Linked DNA regions of Homo sapiens. The protein of the gene in region 2 interacts with the protein of the main gene of each other region in a pairwise test. Each region holds a gene or a part of one and is shown on either strand. Other genes may lie near its edges. The genes, in order: USF1 and MAP3K7CL.

What was found.
Region 1: the proteins of MAP3K7CL (region 2) and USF1 interact in binary tests that used the Homo sapiens proteins (3 or more experiments, as listed by UniProt).

What each region holds. Positions count from the first base shown.
Region 1 is NC_000001.11:161,039,282-161,043,198, forward strand, and holds part of USF1 (upstream stimulatory factor 1), read right to left. Parts: intron 3,602-3,917; coding exon 3,552-3,601; intron 3,392-3,551; exon of another isoform or gene 3,390-3,391; coding exon 3,274-3,389; intron 2,937-3,273; coding exon 2,835-2,936; intron 2,566-2,834; coding exon 2,370-2,565; intron 2,131-2,369; coding exon 2,043-2,130; intron 1,592-2,042; coding exon 1,533-1,591; intron 1,390-1,532; coding exon 1,295-1,389; intron 1,050-1,294; coding exon 921-1,049; intron 729-920; coding exon 639-728; 3' UTR 1-638.
Region 2 is NC_000021.9:29,147,578-29,151,494, forward strand, and holds part of MAP3K7CL (MAP3K7 C-terminal-like protein), read left to right. Parts: intron 1-1,611; coding exon 1,612-1,673; intron 1,674-3,917.

The DNA.
Region 1 (3,917 bases), on a different chromosome or scaffold from region 2:
AAAAAAAAAAAAAAAAAAAGAAAAGAAAAAAAAAAAACGACCCCCACAAGGGGGAAGGCCCCAAGTGGGCCCCTGCCTGTTGTTCTCTCTGGCTCCAGAGATGTCTGCATAGGCCTCAGCTTCTCACTGGCCAATCTCCTCTTCATGGGCACCAGCCACTGCTAAACATCCTTCCCTCACTTCTTGTGTAAGCTTGCTCCCCTGAGCCACAGGTTGCACATCTAAACCTCAGCTCCAGGGAAAGGAAGAACCAATGGAAGTGCCAGAGTCCTGGGGCAAGCCAGAGCATCACCTGTCAGCAAACCTCTGCTGGGCACTCTAAGCAAGCACAGGACAAGCCCCAGAGTTTAGTGTGTCCAGTATCCAGCATGGAGACAGCACATGCATTGTGCGAGAGGAGCACAAGGGCCCAGGGGCTGCATGGTGGGGGTGGGCAAGGCTGTCAGTGCACGTCCACATTGTGTGTTTCACACCACTGCAGGCCGCCATATCACAGGGCCTCAGTTCAAGGACACACCTTCTGAACTTCCCCCTGTCCCATGCCAGAAGTGGGGCAGTGAAGGAAAGGGGCACGGGATTAGGCTGTTGCTCCTGGGCTATCTGCAGTTCTTGGGCCCAAAGCCCCTGAATCCCCATAGTTAGTTGCTGTCATTCTTGATGACGACCTCTAATCCGTGGTGCCGCAACTGAGCTCGAAGCAGCAGATTCTTGTTTTTAAGATCTTCCACCTGACATGGGAAGGAGGCAGTAAAGGGAATGGGTAGTAAAGCTGGCACTTCCAAGCCCCTGAATGTATTCAGACATCCACTGGTGAGGGGGAAAAGATGAAGCCTTCTCCATGGAGAACAAAGTAGAGGGTGTCAAACTGGGTCAGTGGCTAGCAGAACTGAGAAGGGCTGCACTGGGGGTAGGAGTCTGACCTGTTGTCGAAGCACGTCATTGTCCAGCTGCAGTTGGTCAAGTCCCTGCAGTTCTTCAGACAAGCGGTGGTTACTCTGCCGAAGCTCCTGGATATAATCACAAGCTTTGGATAGAATCCCACCTTTACTCTGCAAGATAAGGTCAACAAAATGAGAACTAGGATTTCAGATACCCAGCTTGCTTTCCAAAAGTAGGTTCACACTTTGGACCTCATTTTCATCTAAGGAAGGTGGTATAATATCTCCCAGGGATACAGGAACCTCAGGGAGAGATAAGACTACTGTCATGTGTGCCCCTCTCTCTACCATTTCTGGAAACAATACCAGGAGGCAGAATTCAGGCATCCTGCCCACTACCAGGGTCTTTCCATGACCTGGCCAGACTTGGTGCTCTCCATAGAGCAGTCTGGGATTATCTTGGAGAGCTGCACGATCCAGTTGTTGATCTTGTCTCGGCGGCGACGCTCCACTGTGGGGCAAAGTGGAGGACAAGGTGACTCAGTGAAAACTCGCCACAAGTCCCAGGGTAAAATTACCTAATCCCTCCTCCCCTCAGACATCACTGCTGAGATCACACCAGACAGCTTCTAGCTCCACCCAGATCATACCTACCTTCATTATGCTGAGCCCTGCGTTTCTCATCCCGAGTCGTCCGGGGAGCTTCTGACTTCCTGACAACAGAGCCCAGGGTGGCCAGAGTAAGAAGACAAAATACATGATTGAAGTTTGGGGTTAAGGAATTATACAAGATTTAGCAGGTATTAGGACCACTTATGGTAGCTAGGTGTGGTGTCTCACACCTGTAATCCCAGCACTTTGGGAGGCCGAGGCAGGCGGATCACTTGAGGTCAGGAGTTCGAGACCAGCCTGGCCAACATGGTGAAACCCTGTCTCTACTAAAGATACAAAAATTAGCCAGGGGTGGTGGTACATGTCTGTAGTTCCAGCTACTCAGGAGGCTGAGGCATGAGAAACGCTTGAACCCTGGAAGCAGAGGTTGCAGTGAGCTGAGATCATGCCACTGCACTCCAGCCTGGGTGACAGAGCAAGACTCTGTCTCAAAAAAAAAAAAAAAAAAAAAAAACCACTTACGGAATCTGAGAAGAAACAAGGGTCACTCACGGGGAATAAGGGTGAGTCCTAGGGGCAATTGAGCGCTGGCTTCCTCCCTGCAGTACTTCTTGTGGTGACATCATCACAAAGAATTGACCTGTGAAGATGCAGGGTAGGTTCTGTCAGGACATGGGTAGGAACCTCACCAAGCCCTGAGGTGAAGACCCTGGTCCCCTCCTCTAAAAAGAACATGCTAATAGAAGAGCAGCCCCAGACTCACTGCCTGTCCAGGTCTTAATGATCACTAAGAGTCATGAGTGAAGGCTCACTGCCTACCAGTCATGTCCCACAGCCTATTCTAGCCCTTTCAGCCAGCATCCTCATGCAATATCTCACCAGTGCCAGGAGGGGTCGCCTGCCCCAGCAGTGCCTCTGAGCCCTGGGTAGTAACAACAGCAGCTGTACTCCCCGATGTGGTACCCCCTGCCCCATCTCCCACTGCCGTGCTGGGGAAGTAAGTATAGTGCGTCTCAGCAGCTGTCCCCTCCGTGTCAACTGCATCATCACTGGTGAAAGCACCCTGGATCACCGCCTGGGAAGGGGAGCAAGAAAACTGATTCTGGTAACAGTCAAAAACTTCTTCCCACTACACCACTCTGCAGCTTCTATCCGTTGGGGTGGTAGGTAGGGTGGAGAGAGAGAGAGAGAGAGAGAGAAACATCCAGAAAAGGAGAGCCTAGTGCTTTGGGACAAGGCAGCCTTAGATGCCTCACTGTTCCTAGCTTCACCCCCATCCTACTGATTCCCTTCTTCATCTTACTTCTCAGAACTCTAGTGACCTCCCCAGCCCATACCCTGTACCTGGGTCATGGATTGAGTGGCAGGGTAGCCACTGATGGCGCCAGTTCCCTCAGTTTGGCCATCCAGCTGCCCCTCAGACACCTGGATCACCCTGTACATCACCTAGAAGTGTAGAGGAAGGCAGAGGGAGTGAAGAGAGAAGAAAAGATTAAGTGTTGGGAATCCTAGGGCCCCTCATAAAGCTTCCCTTGGATAGGGCCCCAAAACAAAGTCCTTCAGAGACATGGATTCAGCCATTCTCCCTTCTTTCCCCACACAGAGGTTTCAGCATACATCTAACCTCACACCAGTCTCTACTCCAGTATTAGCACCTCCCTCCCCTGCAACAGTCCACTCTTTCAACTCATCCTCCAAGCCAGGTCTCCCCAAGACATGTTCAATTACCTCCCTCAATCCCAACCCCAGATAACACCTGCAGCCACCTGGCCCCCTCCCTTACCTGGCCCCCATTCTCAGTTCGGAAGACGTACTTGACGTTGGGGTCAGGGAAGGTGGCAGCTGACTGGATGCTGGCAATAGCCACACTGGTTGGGTCTTCCCCAGTAGCCACTGCACCTGAATTAAAAGAACAAAGGAAAAGTCTGTGAGTTAACTGCCTTTCTACCCCCGTTCCATTTGCATGTCACGGAAGGAGGAGGATGCACAGGAGATGGTCTGGTGGGGAAGGAAGGGAGGCCATGATGGGTTCTTAGTCTTGGTTCTGTTTCTAGCACTCACCTTCCTGAATCTGCACTGTCCCCTCTTCCGTTTCAGCTGTTTTCTGCTGCCTGTTTGTGGTGAAAGGACAAAAGGAAGAGTATGAGAAGAAGTCAATGAGAAGCTCACTGGCCCAGTAACATATGGCTGCAAACTCATTGGCATTCCCAACAGAAGCTGGGTTAGGTTAGAATAACAACTAGTGTTTACTGTTTACTATGTACATAAGCACTAAGCTAAGTACATTACATGTAATCTTATTTAGTACTAAAAACAGCACCACGAGATAGATAGCACTACTTCCATTTTATAGATAGAGAAACCAAATCACACAGTAAGTGATAGAGTAGAACCTGAATCCAGGTCTGCCTGACTCCAGAGGCAGTG
Region 2 (3,917 bases):
TGTGTATGTATCTGTACTGTATGTATATGTGTACTGTATATGTATCTGTACTATACCTGTACTGTATGTGTGTACTGTATATGTATCTGTACTGTCTCTATTGTATATGTATGTGTATGTGTACTGTATGTGTATTTGTATTGTATATGTATGTGTACTGTGTATGTATGTATCTGTGCTGTATCTGTATGTGTACTGTATATATCTAACTGTATCTGTACTGTATATGTGTACTGTATAAACCTAACTGTATCTGTACTGTATATATCTGTACTGTATATCTGTACTGTATCTCTATTATATGTATGTGTATGTGTACTGTATCTGTATTGTATATGTATGTGTACTGTGTATGTATCTGTACTGTATCTCTATTATATATTATATATGTTTGTGTATGTGCATGTGTACTGTATGTGTATTGCATATGTATATGTACTGTATATGTATCTGTACTATACCTGTACTGTATGTATATGTGTACTGTATATGTATCTGTGCTATATCTCTATTATATATGTATGTGTAGGTATACTGTATGTGTGTCTGTATTTTATATGTATGTACTGTATATGTATCTGTACTGTACCTGTACTGTATGTATATGTGTACTGTATATATACCTGTACTGTATCTCTATTATATATGTATGTGTAGGTATACTGTATGTGTACTGTATATGTATCTGTACTGTACCTTTACTGTACATATATGTGTACTGTGTATGTACTAGGGTAGGGATTGGAAATGAGTGGCCAATGGACCTTAGAGCCAGAGAGTACCTGGAGATAATGGAAGTTCTGCTTTCTAGCACCAAGGCTCGGTCAGCACTATGTTCTTGAAGAGATTGGGGGTGACTTGGATATTTTGACCCATATTTTGGTCAGGTTTCCTCAAATGCTTCTTAGAACTGCATCTTGCCATCCAGCAACAGCTGCCTATTGCCAACCAGTCAACGTAAGCATGAGTTAGGAGGTCTTTCGGGACTCTCTGGGCTCTGGCGCTCCCTAACAAAGCTGTGAATTCTGCTGCAGGGTAGGAGTGCTGCCTGGTGTATTGGAAAGAAACGCCCCATTTGGGTTGCTGCCTGCTTCTCACTGTAACCCAGAATGAGTTTCTGGTTAACTGCCTGTTAGTGTGGTTTGTGGTAGGAGCAGACAGCAATACCATCACAGCTTGTGGCACTTGGAGTCATTCAGAGCAGAACGAATGCTTCTACTTTTCACTAACATGTTCTCCTGTCCCATTAAAGTCCTTCTGGCCACCTCATTAGCACCTTGTTAAAGCATTTTGTTTCATATCATATTTTTTGGTTTTGGCCAATGTAAGAGTATTGAAAGACAAGCAGTCCTTCTTAATTGGAGAGCTGCCAGCCTGGACATTTGAGGATTCTGATATTTGCTTGCAAAATTTTGTTCAGGCGACCTAAGCTCTCCACGCATCTGTGTGTACAGAAAATGAGCAAAATTGTCCTTTACATTCTGTCTGTCCCCAACTGAAGTGATGAAATGACTGAAACAGTGTATACTGATGGTCTAACTCTGGGGGAGTCCAAGGACTCCTACAAGAAAGAGCTCCATAGTGAAGAATCATTTTATTTCCTTGTTTTAGATGATACACCCCCTGAAGACTCCATTCCTTTGGTCTTTCCAGAATTAGACCAGCAGCTACAGGTAAGGATTTTTCTAAAGTCTCTCTTCTTTCCTCCTTAGTGTCATAAAGTATAGCGAGCTGGGCAGAGAGTGGCCTGACTAGGGGAGACTGACTTGGACCCAGAATGTGGGGCTTTGAAGTCATCAAGGATTACATTTCTAGAGCTCCAAAGTCAGGCTGAAGCCCTCATGGAATGCCCCTGTCTGGTTATCTGGCTATGGCACCAGGACAGCAAGTGCTTATAGCATAAACTGGCTCCTATTTTTAAGGGGTTCTGGAGCCTGGGAAAAGGACGGGTCCCTTCTCTACTTCGATATGGCTGTCTCTAGGTCATTGCATTTTTGGCTTGTCTGGGGTTAGTGATTTAGTATTAAACTCTGCAGAGAAGACTTACCATGTTTGCCAAGACTTTGGAATAATCTTCCTTTCTCTGTTCCCTGCCCCTTCCCCAGTTCTCTGACAACTTTTAATGGAATATAACTATTTTAACTTAAACCTTCTGAAAATTGACTTGTTGGACCCATGACAAATTATTTTGTATATGTAGTTTCTGAGTGATCTGTTGAAAGATATTTTAATACACCAGAATTATTTGAAAGGAGCTCATTTATCACATTTTAATTTTCTTTAGATTATCCATGGTGATTCCAGGCAAAAATGGCTTTCAGAAGAGGTTCTGTCTAAAATACCAGGATACTGGCCTTGGGCCAGCCATTCACTTGAATACTTAACTTTGTAGTCACATTTAGGCAAGTCCAATAGGGGTCTTGAATCCTGTACACAGACATTTCTTAGTCACCACTTTTTTCTCCTAAATATTGATTTTGAAAGCCTTTAGGAGGGGTTTGTAACCTCCAGTTCCCAACAGGCCCTGACATACCCTATTATCTTACACACAGCAGCTTTTCCCATTTGTGGGTGTGCCTTGTGTCCTAACGTCATTTGAGTTTGGCATTCTTATTCCTGGACAGCCCTCAACAGAGGTGGAAGAAGAACCAAGAATGAGCCCTTCCGCAAGCCAAGATAGTGTTCCTTTTTGTTTGCTTCTGTTCTTACCTCAGTATGCAGAGCACTGTGTTAAAAACCTGGCAGCAACCAGGTCAGGTTTGAAGAGCTGGTGTTCTACTGCCAGGGTGGTCTCTAAAAACCAACTGAGGGTGACTCAGGTGTGATCTGGCCGCTTGGAGGAGTCCTCATTCTCACCTTTGTAGCAGTCCTGGGCATTGTCTCAGCTTTCCAACAGAAAGCTGCTCAACAGAGCATTATCAGTTATGTAGGTATTACTGAAAATTGTATAGGAGGTCGGAGGGTTACACTGATCACCACACAGCTGTCAAAAGAGCTCTGTCGTCCCCTAAAATTTCCTCTCTAGCTATCAGCCATCACGTCTCCCTCTTTTTTCTATCCTCCATGCAGGGTTCTCAACCCAGCTCTCCTGGCTTCTAATTTTTAACCATAGTCTCTCCCTTCCCCACTCCCACCCCCACCAATATGTCTTCTTTTCAGCATGAAGAACAATTCAGCTCTCCCTCTACCTTTCCTTTTTTTTTTTTTTTTGAGACAGAGTCTCCCTTGGTCACCCAGGCTGGAGTGCAGTGATGTGATCTCGGCTCACTGCAAACTCCACCTCCTGGGTTCAAGCGATTCTCCCATCTCAGCCTCCCTAGTAGCTGGAATTACAGGCATGTGCCACCACGCCCGGATAATTTTTGTATTTTTAGTAGAGACGGGGTTTTGCCATGTTGGCCAGACTGGTCTCAAACTCCTGACCTCAAGTGATCCGCCCGCCTCAGCCTCCCAAAGTGCTAGGATTGCAGGCGTGAGCCACGGCGCCTGGCCTGCATTTTCTTCTGGTCTGTTGACACTGCAAGTGATAGTTCTTGCTTAGGTTCTGTTCTCACAGAGAGGCTGTCTATGTGCTGCTGGTGGTGTAATTGGGATTGCTATTGAAAGTAATGCCATTGGCCCGGTGCCGTGGCTCACACCTGTAATCCCAGCACTTTGGGAGGCTGAGGCGGGTGGATAAGACCAGCCTGGTCAATATGGTGAAACCCCATCTCTACTAAAAATACAAAAATTAGCCAGGTGTGGTGGCACACACCTATAGTCCCAGCTACTAGGGAGGCTGAGGCAGGAGAATCGCTTGAAACCAGGAGGCGGAGGTTGCAGTGAGCCCAAGGTTGCTGTGAGCCAAGATCGTACCACTGCACTCCAGCCTGGGCAACAGAGCAAGACTCCGTCTCAAAAAAATAAAAAAGAAAGTA